Linked DNA regions of Homo sapiens. The protein of the gene in region 4 purifies or fractionates together with the protein of the main gene of each other region. This does not show direct contact. Each region holds a gene or a part of one and is shown on either strand. Other genes may lie near its edges.

Region 1 (3,500 bases), on a different chromosome or scaffold from region 4:
TGAGATTTATTCACTATCACAAGAAGAGCATAAGAAAGACCTGCCCCCATGATCCAGTTACTTCCCACTGGGTGCCTCCCAGATGTGGGGAATTGTGAGAGCTACAATTCAAAATGAGATTTTGCTGGGGACACAGCCAAACTGTATCATTCCACCCTGGGCCCCTCCCAAATCTCATGTCTTCACATTTCAAAACCAATCATGCGTTCCCAACAGTCCCCCAAAGTCTTAACTAATTTCAGCATTAACTCAAAAGTCCACAGACCAAAGTCTCTTCTGAGACAAAGCAAATCCCTTCCGCCTATGAGCCTGCAAAGTCAAAAACAAGTTAGTTACTTCCCAGATACAGTGGGGGTACAGGCATTGGGTAACTACAGCCGTTCCAAATGGGAGAAATTGGCCAAAACAGAGGCTTACAGGCCCCGGTGCAAGTCCAGAATTCAGCAGGACAGTCAAATCTCAAAGCTCCAAAATGATCTCCCTTGACTCCATGTCTCACATCCAGGTCAAGCTGATATAAGAGGTGGGCTCCCATGGTCTTAGGCAGCTCTGCCCCTGTGGCTTTGCAGGGTATAGCCCCCACTCCTGGCTGCTTTTATGGGCTGGCATTGAGTGTCTGTGAGTTTTGCAGGCACGCAGTGCCAGCTGTCGACGTATCTACCATTCTGGAGTCTGGAAGATGGTAGCCCTCTTCTCACATCTCCACTAGGCAGTGCCCCAGTGGGGACTCTATGTGGGGGCTTCAACCCCACATTTCCCTTCTGCATTGCCCTAGCAGAAGTTTCTCCATGGGGCCCTGCCCCTCATGGAGGGGACACAGCCCTGCAGCAGACTTCTTCCTGGATATACAGGTGTTCTCATACATCCTCTGAAATCTAGGCGGAGGTTCCCAAACCTCAGTTCTTTACTTCTGCACACCTGCAGGCTTAACACCACATGGAAGCCGCCAAGGCTTGGAGCTTGCACCATCTGAAGCCATGGCCCAAGCTGTACCTTGGCCCCTTTCAGCCATGGCTAGAGCACCTGGGACACAGGGCACCAAGTTCCTAGGCTGCACACAGAAAGGGGGCCCTGGGCCTGGCCCACAAAACCATTTTTTCCTCCTAGACCTCTGGGCCTGTGATGGAAGGGGCTGCTGCAAAGGTCTGACATGTCCTGGAGACATTTTCCCCATTGTCTGGGTGACTAACATTCGGCTCCTCCTTACTTAGGCAAATTCCTGCAGCCAGTTTGAATTTCTTCTCAGAAAATGGGATTTTCTTTTCTATCGCACTGTCAGGCAGCAACTTCTCCAAGCTTTTATTCTCTACTTCCCTTATAAAACTTAATGCCTCTAACAGCACCTGAGAACCTCTTGAATGCTTTGCTGCCTAGAAATTCCTTCTGCCAGATACCCTAAATCATCTCTCTCAAGTTGAAAGTTCCATAGATCTCTAGGGCAGGGGCAACATGCCACCAGTCTCTTTGCTAAAACATAACGAGTCACCTTTGCTTCAGTTCCCAACAAGTTCCTCATCTCCATCTGAGACTACCTCAGCCTGGATTTCATTGTCTGTATCATTATTGGCATTATGGTCAAAGCCATTCAGCAAGTCTCTAGGGAGTTCCAAAGTTTCCCACATTTTCCTGTCTTCTTCTGAGTCCTCTAAACTGTTCCAGCCTCTGCCTGTTACCCAGTTCCAAAGTCGCTTCCACATTTTCGGGTATCTTTTCAGCAGTGCCCCACTCTACTGGTATCAATTTACTGTATTAGTCCATTTTCACACTTCTAATAAAGACATACCCAAGACTGGGTAACTTACAAGAAAAAGCGGTTCAGTGGACTCACAGTTCCACGTGGTTGGGGAGGCCTTTTAATCGTGGTGGAAGGCAAGGAGGAGCAAGTCACATCTCACATGGCAGCAGGGAAGAGAGAACTTGTGTAGGGGAACTCCTCTTTATAAAATCATCAGATCTCATGAGGCTTACTATCATGAGAAGAGAACGAGAAAGACCCACCCCCATGATTCAGTTACCTCCCACTGGGTCCCTCCCACGACGTGGGAATTGTGGGAGTTACAATTCAAGAGGAGATTTGGGTGGGGACACCACCAAACCGCATCACCTGGCAAGGTGGCATGTGCTTGTGGTCCCAGCTACTCAGGAGGCTGAGTGGGAGGATTGCTTGAGCCCAGGAGATTGAGGCTGCAGTGAGCCATCATGGTGCCACTGCACTCCAGCCTGGGTGACAGAGAGATACCCTGTCTCAAAATAAAAACAAGGGTCTCACAAGACCTGCTTTGCAACCAATTGTTAACAGTTCACATTATGTTTAAGTATATGTAGTAATAAAGCTGATTTTCTTTCAGAATTATAGACTTCAGGGGTTTGATAATTCGTACTTGTTTTCTGAATTGGTAAGGAATAGTGCCAAGCATCAAATGGATAAGGACCCTAAATAATAAACCTTTATTTTCAAATATTGCTTCCATATCTACCTGCCAAGTTCTGGCAGCCTTTTTGATGATATACAAATGCCTATATTATAGTTCCTGCAATTCTTCTATTTTAATGAGGACCTACTTAAACCACGAGACTTATTTTACATTTTCACCATTATTTAAATAAGATTGTTCATTCATAGAGCTTCTGTTAGCCTACGGTCTGCTAAATATTGGTACCTATGCAAAGACAGCTGATGTTCCCTGCTCTTGAGGAGCCAGGGGAACTTTTCACTGCAATATCTGTAGTAATTTTACATTTTGTCTTTTAGATAAACTCAAGCCATGGAGGGATTACTGCATTACATCAACCCTGCACACGCCATTTCTCTCCTAAGTGCCCTGAATGAGGAGCGTCTCAAAGGACAGCTGTGTGATGTGCTGCTGATTGTTGGAGACCAAAAGTTCCGAGCTCATAAAAACGTCTTGGCTGCCAGCAGCGAATACTTTCAGAGTTTATTCACAAATAAGGAAAATGAGTCACAAACTGTATTTCAGCTTGACTTCTGTGAGCCAGATGCTTTTGATAATGTTTTAAACTACATTTATTCTTCCTCTCTATTTGTTGAGAAGAGCAGCCTTGCTGCTGTGCAAGAACTTGGCTATAGTCTTGGGATTTCCTTTCTGACTAACATCGTTTCTAAAACACCTCAAGCCCCCTTTCCAACGTGTCCTAATAGAAAAAAAGTGTTTGTAGAAGATGATGAAAACAGTTCTCAAAAGAGAAGTGTCATTGTTTGTCAAAGTAGAAACGAAGCGCAAGGAAAAACTGTTAGTCAAAATCAACCCGATGTAAGCCATACTTCCCGGCCCTCTCCTAGCATTGCAGTCAAGGCCAATACCAATAAGCCACATGTCCCAAAACCAATAGAACCACTTCATAATTTGTCATTAACTGAAAAGAGTTGGCCGAAAGATAGTTCTGTGGTATATGCAAAGTCTCTTGAGCATTCTGGATCTTTGGATGATCCTAATAGAATCAGTTTGGTGAAAAGAAATGCAGTGTTGCCTTCAAAGCCT
Region 2 (3,500 bases), on a different chromosome or scaffold from region 4:
AGAAAAGAGAAAACATAGAAAAGGAACAAAACATAGAAAAGGACAAAAATAACTCAAGAAAGTTTTCCCAGAACTGAAAGACATGAATTTCCAGATGGAAAGGATATCCCATGTGCTCAGCACAGTGGGTCCACATCTCTTGAAATTTCGAACACTTTGGAGAGAGAGAAGATTCTACCACCCTCCAGGGAGAAAAAACCCCAAACAAACAAACATGGTTTATACAATGGGTCAGGAATCAGAATGGAATAGACAGGATAGTTACACAGGAAGCCAGAAGAATAGTGGAGCAATACTTTTAAGTTTTTGAAGGAAAATGATTTCCAACTTAGAGTTCTATATCCAGCCAAATTTTGTCAATTAAAAATGATGGTAAATGCATTTTTAGCCATGGAGATTCAGTTATCTCCTGCAGACCTTTTAGGAGGCTGCTGCTGAATGTGTTCTAGCAAAATGAGGAAGTGAATCAAGAACGGAGAAAGCATACAACTAGGAAATAGGACATCCAAACAAAGATGGAGGTGAAATGAATCCACAGGTTGATGGGGGAGGGAAATGCTAAGGTAACAACTATGCATTAGGCCTAGTTGGTAATGAGTTCAAATTCCAGCAAGTTTAGAAGCCTTTGGGAAAGATTTATCAAGAAAATAAAATCAATAGAATTCCTAATGTGTTAGAATTAACTGCAGTCAGTTTTAAAGAACTGGAAAAAACTGGTTGAATTATGCATTGGAAACTAAGCAAATTGAAAAAATGAAGACATGTATTAACTCCAGAATATCAAAAAATTATGTAGGAAAGAAAATGTAATATGACATATATTTTACATGGCTCAGTTGTGAATAGTTTTTACAAAGTCATAATAGTTTGAATGAAATAAAATTTAAAAAGATTTGGGGTCTGGGCTGATGTTCTTCGTGGGACACCTGGAAGAAACAATATAAAACCACTTTGGAGGGACGCTCCATATACCCAAGCTACATTGGATCTCACCAAAAAAGTATAAAAATAAATGCCAAAACAAACCAACTGAACAAAAAACACCAAACCAAAAAAGTCCTCCTGAAGATGAGGACTTATATTTTTTATAAAAAAATTATAAAACACACATTTTTTGAGTGAGATATATAATAAATATTAACTCAGTCATGCCTATGTTATTTTTCCTCATAGTCTGTAATTAATGTCTGATATTTAAGGAACGTGGATTGGTTGTAATAGTAAAATTTATTTTCTAATTTAGAAAGGACAAATTTTACTTAGTGCGCAGTTCATTTCCACACAATACACAGTGGCACATTTTAAAGTTATTTCTTTTTTCTCTCTTTTTAAAATTATTATACTTTAAGTTCTGGGATACATGTGCAGGACGTGCAGGTTTGTTACATAGGTATACATGTTCCATGGTGGTTTGCTGCACCCATCAACCCGTCATCTATGTTAGTTATTTCTCCTAATGCTCTCTAAAGTTATTTCTTAAATGAAGTTAGCCTGATTTTATTTTCTCAGTGTGATATTTTAATTTTTTTAACAGAGTAAAAAGAAGTTTGAAAGAGAATGTAGAGAGGCAGAAAAGGCACAACAGAGTTATGAAAGATTGGATAATGATACTAATGCAACCAAGGCAGATGTTGAAAAGGTAAGAAATACTCCAAACCAACTTTAATGTCAAAATATTATTATTTGCATAAGGAAAGTAGTCACGACATTTGTATGACTACAGTATTAGGATTTACTTGAGATACACTGTATCTAAGTCTAAAATATACAAATATTTGCCAACTTTAAATTATACGTATTGGTCTGAGAAAGTAATATATGTTAATTTATTACAATATCTTAGCTGCATTCAAATTTAGAGGAAAGACGTAGTTGCTACTGGGATTGAGTTTTTAGCCTATTCCAAAATAGGTTAGAAAGCTAAGATGTGTTGATGGGGTAATAATTAGTTAGAGAATAACTGTTGTAATTTGACTTTGTACAAGAGATCAAGAGGAACAGAACTGTATTCTAAATAAGCATTCCTTAATTTGACTTTGTACAAGAGATCAAGAGGAACAGAACTGTATTCTAAATAAGCATTCCTTAAAGTATCTGTGGTTCTACACATTGGTGGAAACACTGTTGAATGTTGCATTATTCAACAATCATATTATTATTTAGTTTCACTGTGATTTAAGTTCCATATTTTAGTTGGATATAGTTGGATCATAAATGTTTTACTGTTAACTTTTTTAACAATCTGAAAATATTCCTAAAGCTACCTGTTTTTCTCTTCTGATTAAAAGCACACTGTTTCAAGCTATAATGTTTTCATTTGTTTGTTTTTTTATCTGGATTTGGTAAGGAGAGTCTATATTAGAATGTCTTATTGCTATCAGGGAATACTATTGTAATGAGAGAGGGAAGAATATTGTAATAAGGAGACCACTCTGACAGTAAGATCTGCAGGTGTCTTTAAATATAAAATATATTTTAAATGATATTAATAGTTCAAAAAAGTTATGCCACGTCATTATTCTTTTGATGTCAGGTGTTGGCTTCTTCATTGATAAAATCTAGTTTTAGTATAATTTTCAAAAAAGTGAATTGCTGTGATTTTGTTGTTGATAATAATTTCGACCATTTTGCCCCTAGGCCAAACAGCAGTTGAATCTGCGTACGCATATGGCCGATGAAAATAAAAATGAATATGCTGCACAATTACAAAACTTTAATGGAGAACAACATAAACATTTTTATGTAGTGATTCCTCAGATTTACAAGGTAAATCTTAGATATGAAGTTAATCTAGTTTTAGATTAACTGGTGTTTAAATATAAAACTTGTAAGTCTTAGACATCAGAATCTTTCTAGATTCACTAGACATCAGGGTTGGGGTGAGAGATTCCTTTATGATTATAGATTTGAAAACAAGTGTTTTCTAACTTTTAAGTCACACATTTTCCTACGTATCTACTATTAGTGTTATAAACAGTTTACTAAAACAATGACATTTGTAAGATACATTTAAATACTTTAAGTATTTTGACATGACAAAGGAGAATTAATTGAATTTGTATATTGTAATCTGCTCACCTAGAATTGAGATGTAGCATTTTTATACCAAACCAGAGTCATTGGCATCAGTCCAGATGGCAGAAATAAATCTTACAAAATATATTTGCTAGCATGGTTTTTGCCTGCTTATCATGCTGGCTCTGTTAGATGATAAATGTAATTCAGACTTTGAGCTTGCTTATAAATCCTGTCTGTCATCACTTGATGATAACAGTTGCCAAACAGCCTCAGGTAAAAAAGACCTCAGAATTTTCATGAGGGTTAAATTATTTAATTGCCTGTTCTAGAAAGAAGAGAAATTACAGAAAAGGGATTTAGTAAAGCAGTGTTGATGAGTTATTATCTCAACGAGCAGAGCTTCTGTGGGAAGAGTGTCAGCCCGGGTACACTTTTTCTTCTTTATAAGGCAAGTTGGAAATACAAAGAAAGCACAGTGAGAG
Region 3 (3,500 bases), on a different chromosome or scaffold from region 4:
TGGGCAATAGAGTGAAATGGAACTAACAGCTCCTGGTTTTCCGTGTGCCAAACACATTTATTCTGCAAAGTATTTATTTTTTGTTCCCATTTTACAGAAGAGGAATCTAAAGCCTTAAAGGGTTAAGTAACATTCCTGAAGTTATGTAGTAAGATGATGGAGTTGCAAGGGACTTGTGAAAATGAAAGTTTAATTTTCCAAATAGGGCTATGTTGGTTACTTAGAAAATTTTAAATGGGATGAATTTTCTTAATCGGCTGTGGACCAATTCCTCTTTATCAGCATAGTCTCTCCCTGTAGGCAAATCTGAATGGGAATGCAAATTATAATTAGCTCCTTTAGTGAACCTGAAATCAGAAGAAGGGGCATTAATTGGATAACCTTAAGGTAGCCTCAGCTTGAGTGTATTCTTCTCCTCTGGGTATGTATCTGCGTCTTGGAATTCCTAGGAAAAACCTTTCTAAACTTGACCCGAACTACGACTCTCTTCCTCATCACTCCTTTAAATTCCCCCATCAATGTAATCTGCAGGCCATCTCCTTTCTTTGGGACATTCTATACAATATACATATATTAAGGGCTACAGTTTTAGTAAGTCCTGTGTGTCCTAAGGTTATATATTGGTCTCCTTGATTGGATTTTGGGTGTTTTCACTTTGAATTGATCTTAATCATTTATTACTTTCATTATAACTAATCTTGAGGGGATATCTTGTTATCAACCCCCCAGGTACCACCTATATAAATACCTGTTTGTCTTAACATGAGTAACATGAGTAACAGGTTCCTGATCTCTTTTGGGCAGAGTGCAATCATTTTGTTTTTCGTTTTTCTTCAGTCTCCAATTACCTATAGGAGGCAGTATAACACAACACGTAATGTAAGCGCCTACTTGGGCTTAAGGTCAGAGGACTTTGCTCTTAAATCTCTACTTTTTAGGCAGGCAAATTAGTTAACTTCTAGTTTCGTTATGTATGCAAAGTATATGTGCCAGCATAAAACCACTTAGTGCCGTTATTTATTATCATTATTACCTTTTTGTTTTGTTTTTTTGAGACAGTGACTCTATTGCCCAGGCTGGAGTGCAGTGGTGAGATAAAGGCTCACTGCAGCCTCCTGGGCTCAGGCATCCTCCCGAGTAGCTAGAACTACAGGTGCGCGCCACCATTCCTGGCTAATTTTTAAGTTTTTTGTTGAAACGGGAGTCTCGCTATGTTGCCCAGGCTGGTCTCAACCTTTTGGGCTCAAGCAATTCTCCCACCTTGACCTCCCCAAAATGCTGGGATTACAGGTGTGAGCCACTGAGCCTGGCCGTTATTACTCATTTTGATCACCAATCAGTTCTCCTTTTTATACCTTCAGAGACTTTGTGGCCATCAGGTTCTTTGAACATTCTGAGCCTATTTCTCATACATGCAGTTTTTCTCAGCTTCACAAAGACACTCTTAATATCTTGTCTTAAAAACATGGAAATGAGAGTTTTAGAATTCTTTAGGCAAGAAATCACTTTGAGTCTAGGAGTACTAAACTCCTATTTTCCCAATTATTTCTCAAAGAGTCCCGTTTCTGAGAGGAATTTGGCCACATCTTAACACAGTCATGTACTGCATGACGTTCTCAAGGATGGACTGCATTTATGATAATGGTCCCATAAGATTATAGCGGAGCTGAAAAATTACTATCGCCTGGTGATAGCGTAAAGTTGTAGCGTACTTTGTTTTGTAATCCCAGCACTTTGCGGGGCCGAGGTGGGTGAATCACTTGAGGTCAGGAGTTCGAGACCAGCCTGACCAACATGGTGAGACCCTGTCTGTACTTAGTGTAGCCTAAGTGTACGGTGCTCATAAAATCTACAGCAGTGTATGGTAATGTCCTAGGCCTTTCATTCAGTCACCACTCACTGACTCACCCAGAGCAGCTTCCAGGTATGCCAGCTCTGTTCATGGTGAGTGCCCTATAAGGTGTGCCATATTTTTACTGTACCTTTTTCATGTTTAGATAGATTAGATACACAAATACTATTGTGTTACAGTTGCCTAAAGTATTCCTTACAGTAACATAGTGTACAGATTTGTAGTCTGGGAGCAATAGGCCCAACCATATAGCCTAGGTGTGTAGTAGGTTATACCATCTAGGTTTGTGTACGCTAAGGCACAGTGACAAAATCGATGCATCTCTCAGATCATATCCCTCTCGTTAAGTGATGCATAACTGTATGTCATGAAAGGTTACTTTCCTCTAAGTAAGAAAAGTATCTTTTTGTTAATCCCTTGGTAGTTACCAAAAAGTTAATCCTTCTGTTAATTGGACCTTGGTTATTGTGGACTGTTCATGGGAAAGTCTTTTAAAACATGCTTTCTGAGTCTGTGTTTTGAGCCTTCTATTTCCGAGGTGTCCCTGTATTTATAAGGATGTGAGGGACAATTAATAGTTTAATTTTGAGTAACAATTGACTACATCGTCAGAGTCAGGTTTAATGATTAGCTCATTCAGTATCTGACCATTTGGCCCAGAAGACTTTAAAATTCCTTAATAACAGTGATTACCAGTTATTCTTGGTTTAGACCACTTTCTACCTAATTGTGAAATTTTCATAGCCTAAATCACACATCCTGTCAACTCTTCCTGGGAGAAACATGCATCCAAATGTATTATTGTTGTAAATTTAGTTAACCTTTACAGAAACTAAGTAATGAATTCAGACCAGTGATCTGATTGAAATTTCCAGTTGGAATATATTGATGTCAGTAGCTGAGCAAACAAAAGAATGTAAGGCAGATCTATCAGCCTAATTTGTTTATGGCAGAAATAAGGGCGGAAGGTTGGTTGGTTGGTTACTTGGTTGGTTTTTAACACTTTAGGAAGAAAGTCTGAAAGACCTTTCACTGAGGAAAAATCGATTAGAGTTGAGCCTGTAGCCCATTAAATTCCGTTGTTTCTTATTTATATATTTTACATTATTTATAATTTATTCTTTGTGTTTTATTCAGTAACAGCTAGTTCATAGCCCTTGTGCTTTTCAAACTTGTTAGCAGTGTCTGACTGTATACCTTATTGTGTACCTAGGATTAGCTTCCTTCTCCATCTTAAATTTAGCTGTATTAGGTTGGCAAAGCACTGGAGATAAAAATCTGTATGTTTTGTTAACATTCATTCTCTCTGCCCTCAAGGAACTTGTAGTTTAGTAAGGAGAGACAGACATGACCGAAAAAAGACACAGATAACATGGTAGCAGTATATAATCAGGGTACATTGAAGAATTTTTTTTTTTTTGAGATGGGGTCTCACTTGTCACCCAGGCTGGAGTGCAGTGGTGTGATCTGGGCTCACTGCAACCTCCGCCTCCTGGGTTCAAGTGATTCTTCTGCCTCAACCTCCTGATTAGCTGGGACTACAGGCACATGCCACCATGCTAGGCTAATTTTTGTATTTCTAGTAGAGACGGGGTTTCAGTATGTTGGCCAGGATAGTCTCTATCTCCTGATCTCGTGATCTGCCCAC
Region 4 (3,500 bases):
GGCTTATTTGGGTCAGAGAGGTGAGATCAACAGGAGGTTGATCTGGTACTGAGACTTAAGGTAATAATGTGAAAGTGTTATCAGGGCAAGCTTTAGCCTCAGCACTATTGATATTTTGAGCCAGATAAGTCTTTGTTGGGGGGAGGAGTAGACCGTGTTCTACACCATAGGGTGTTAAACAGTGTCCCTGGCCTTTACCCACAAGATGCCAGTAGCACCCCCTACTCTATTTGTGACAACCCAAAATGTCTCCAGACATTGCAATTCACTCCCAGTTGAGAGCCACTGACTTACAGCATAGACCAAAGGCACAAAAAGATCAGATCATGCTTCTCCGTGAGCTGGGCACAGTGGCACGCACTTATAGTCCTAGTTACTTGGGAGGCTGAGGTGGGAGGATTGCTTGAGCCTCAGAGTTAAGAGCCAACCTGGGCAACATAGCAAGACCCCATCCTTTAAAAAAAAAAGAGGGAGTTGAAAGTACAGAAAAGAAAGGAAAAGTAAGCATCCCCTGTGGATTCCTCTTTCTAGGCATGATCAAGCAGTTCCTCCGAGATGTGGACTGGGGAGAGGTCGACTACCTCATTGTGGACACCCCACCTGGGACGTCGGATGAACACCTCTCGGTCGTCCGGTACCTGGCCACAGCACACATCGATGGAGCAGTGATCATCACCACTCCCCAGGTGAGCGAGCTGCCAGCTGGAGCTGGGTCCAAACTGTGCTCCACACTGTGAGATTTCTTTCCTACCTGGCTCTGATACTCTGGTCTCACCAAGGCTCTTCCCAGTGTGTGTTCCGCAGCTGCATCTGATGTGGGTCTGCAGAAACCTCGTGTTAAAAACTTCAGCCAGCACAGTGATTCACACCTGTAATCCCAGGACTTTGGGAGGCTGAGATGGGAGGATCACTTGAGCCCACGAGTTCGGGACCAGCCTGAAAAACATAGCAAAACCCCATCTCTACAAAAAATATTTTAAAATTAGCCAGGCATGGTGGCTCGCGCCTGTAGTTCCAGCTACTTGGGAGGCTGAGGTAGGAGGATCATTTGAGCCTGGGGAAAGGAGGTTGCAGTGAGCCATGATCACGCCAGTGCAGTCCAGCCAGCGCAAGCGAGTGAGGCCTTGTCCCAAAAGATAAAAATAAGAAAAACTTCATCTTTGGTCTAGACATTTGCAGCTGACAACCATTCAACGATTTGGTTTTTTTTTAGTCCATGGATTAAACAATAGTGGGTCAAGAATGCTTTTTGAACTTTCCTTGAGGAAACTAGGGAAACCACCAGTGCAGTTATAATTCATACTGTGCTGCCTGGCCCCGTCAGCCTTGCCGTGTCCATGTGTCAGGTCCCCCAGCCTACAGTGGATTTTCCGTTTACATCCCAGGATGATTTAGGAAATCTCTCCAGTTTTCAACAGAACCAGCTGGGTGCAGATAGGGATTTCGGGATAAGCCACTGGGTGCCTTCGCTTCTTCCGTAGTGACACCCAGCAACCCTCTGTAGCAGTCACCTAGTGGCTGTACTCCAAGGCCCATGGTGAGCCCGAGCTGAGAGGAGAGCGATAGGAAGTTTCCTCTCTGTAAGTCCTGCAGAGAGCAACTGCAGGCAGGACCATGGTGCTATCCATCTCAGGGGCCTGAGAAACTGAGGGCTCTTCTCCATCTCCACAGTTACGCCTGACTTCTCTTCATGACGTTCTCCTCCACACTTAAGAAAGCCCAGCAAAGGAGGTTTGATTTGATCTCACTGGCCAGAATCAGTCAGGACGACCCATAGTCTCACCTCATCCAGCACTCACTGAGCTCTGACTCTGACATGCCGGGCACCAGGGCAGTAAAAAGGCCTGGCTCTCCCTGGTGGCCCCTGTGGCTCCCTGAGGAACACAGGTGCTGGACACAGGGATGAGGGTACAGCCAATGGAGTGGCAGGCCCAGCGGCCATGGGAAGGGTGTCCGGGTCAGAAAATGGTGCAAGATTCATGTCCACCCTGGCATCCTGCAGAGAGGGGACATGGGGACGCAAGGAGGAGCAGGACACCAGCTGGGACCCTGGACAGGAGGGAGGATGGCCTGGCCCGGGTGATGGCAGTGGAGAGAAAGTGTATTTGTCCTTAGGAATGTTTTCTGTCCCATTTTTAAAAAGTGGTTGGTGCTGGGCACACTGGCTCATGTCTGTAATCCCAGCACTTTGGGAGGCCGAGGCAGGCAGATTACTTGAGGTCAGGAGTTCGAGACCAGACTGGCCAATATGGCAAAACCCTGTCTCTACCAAAAAAATACAAAAATTAGCCAGGCGTGGTGGTGGGCACCTGTAATCCCAGCTACTTGGGAGGCTGAGGTGGGAGAAGTGCTTGAATCCAGGAGACAGAGGTTGCAGTGAGCCGAGATCGCGCCACTGCACTCCAGCCTGGGCGACAGAGCAAGACTCTGTCTCAAAAAAAGAAAGAAAGAAATGAGAGACTGAGTCGCAGCCCATTGACTTTCTAGCTGAGCGCCCCTTCCTCCGCATCCCAGCCTCAGTGTCAAGAGCCAAACAGGCATCTCAGGAAAAGAACAGGCCCAAAGCTGCGAGCCTTTCGGGCTCACGTGAGTGGTGAAGCTCCAGGTGCTAAGGAGTCACTACACCTGACAGTGACAAGCCACAGCAGGACTTGGGTACAGGGATCTGTGATAACATTAACTGAGGAAAATAGGGAGCTACTGAGCGGTGTTTATACACAGTAATCACATTGGAAAAACTCAGAGTTGAGAAGGAAATGCAAAGTTGTCCACATTGGGCAGTATTCCTTATTTCCTTTTAGTCAGTTGTTTGTGTTTATAATTATCTAGAGCAGGGATTGGCAAACTTTTCTGTAAAGGGCCAGATAGGAAGTAGGCGTTGCGGACCCCACGGTCCCTGTCCCAGCCCCTTAGCCGTGCCACTGTGGCATGAAGCAGCCACAGACGGTGCCTAGAGGGACGGGCATGGCTGGTTCCGGAGGAACTTTATTTATAAAACCAGCCAGATTCAGCCCCCAGGCTGGGGTTTGCCAAGCTCTGGTCTAGAAAACAGTGCACACACTGGCTTAATATAGTATAGTATAGGGACATGGAGCATGTAGATGCGTTAAAAGGTCATTTTCAGATAGGCACAGTGGCTCACGCCTCTAACCCTAACACTCTGGGAGGCCGAGGCAGGAGGATCACTTCACACCAGAAGCTTAAGACCAGTCTGGGCAACAACCATCTCTATAAAAAATTAAAAAGTTAGCCAGGCAGAGTAGCACATGCCTGTAGTCCCAGCTACTCTGGAGGCTGAGGCAGGAGGATTGCCTGAGCCCAGGAGGTCAAGGCTGCAGTGAGCAATGATTATGCCACTGCACTCCAGACTGGGCAGCAGTGAGATCCTGTCTCTAAAAAAAAAAGTCATTTTCTTTTAGGTTGATTTCTTGCTATTTGGCTGTGTGGGAAGTAAATAGCACCTCGAACAAACAGGGCTTAGCACTAGTAGGTACTAAATA

The links.
Region 1: the proteins of NUBP1 (region 4) and ZBTB21 purify together in Homo sapiens (affinity purification with mass spectrometry; one large-scale study listed by BioGRID and IntAct). This does not show direct contact.
Region 2: the proteins of NUBP1 (region 4) and FNBP1L purify together in Homo sapiens (affinity purification with mass spectrometry; one large-scale study listed by BioGRID and IntAct). This does not show direct contact.
Region 3: the proteins of NUBP1 (region 4) and ZBTB10 purify together in Homo sapiens (affinity purification with mass spectrometry; one large-scale study listed by BioGRID and IntAct). This does not show direct contact.

Annotation. Positions count from the first base shown.
Region 1 is NC_000021.9:41,993,361-41,996,860, reverse strand, and holds part of ZBTB21 (zinc finger and BTB domain-containing protein 21), read left to right. Parts: intron 1-2,752; 5' UTR 2,753-2,765; coding exon 2,766-3,500. UniProt on the Homo sapiens protein: Acts as a transcription repressor.
Region 2 is NC_000001.11:93,528,118-93,531,617, forward strand, and holds part of FNBP1L (formin-binding protein 1-like), read left to right. Parts: intron 1-1,534; coding exon 1,535-1,639; intron 1,640-2,637; coding exon 2,638-2,766; intron 2,767-3,500. UniProt on the Homo sapiens protein: Required to coordinate membrane tubulation with reorganization of the actin cytoskeleton during endocytosis. May bind to lipids such as phosphatidylinositol 4,5-bisphosphate and phosphatidylserine and promote membrane invagination and the formation of tubules.
Region 3 is NC_000008.11:80,489,226-80,492,725, forward strand, and holds part of ZBTB10 (zinc finger and BTB domain-containing protein 10), read left to right. Parts: intron 1-3,500. UniProt on the Homo sapiens protein: May be involved in transcriptional regulation.
Region 4 is NC_000016.10:10,757,342-10,760,841, forward strand, and holds part of NUBP1 (cytosolic Fe-S cluster assembly factor NUBP1), read left to right. Parts: exon of another isoform or gene 1-531; coding exon 532-686; exon of another isoform or gene 687-936; intron 937-3,500. UniProt on the Homo sapiens protein: Component of the cytosolic iron-sulfur (Fe/S) protein assembly (CIA) machinery. Required for maturation of extramitochondrial Fe-S proteins.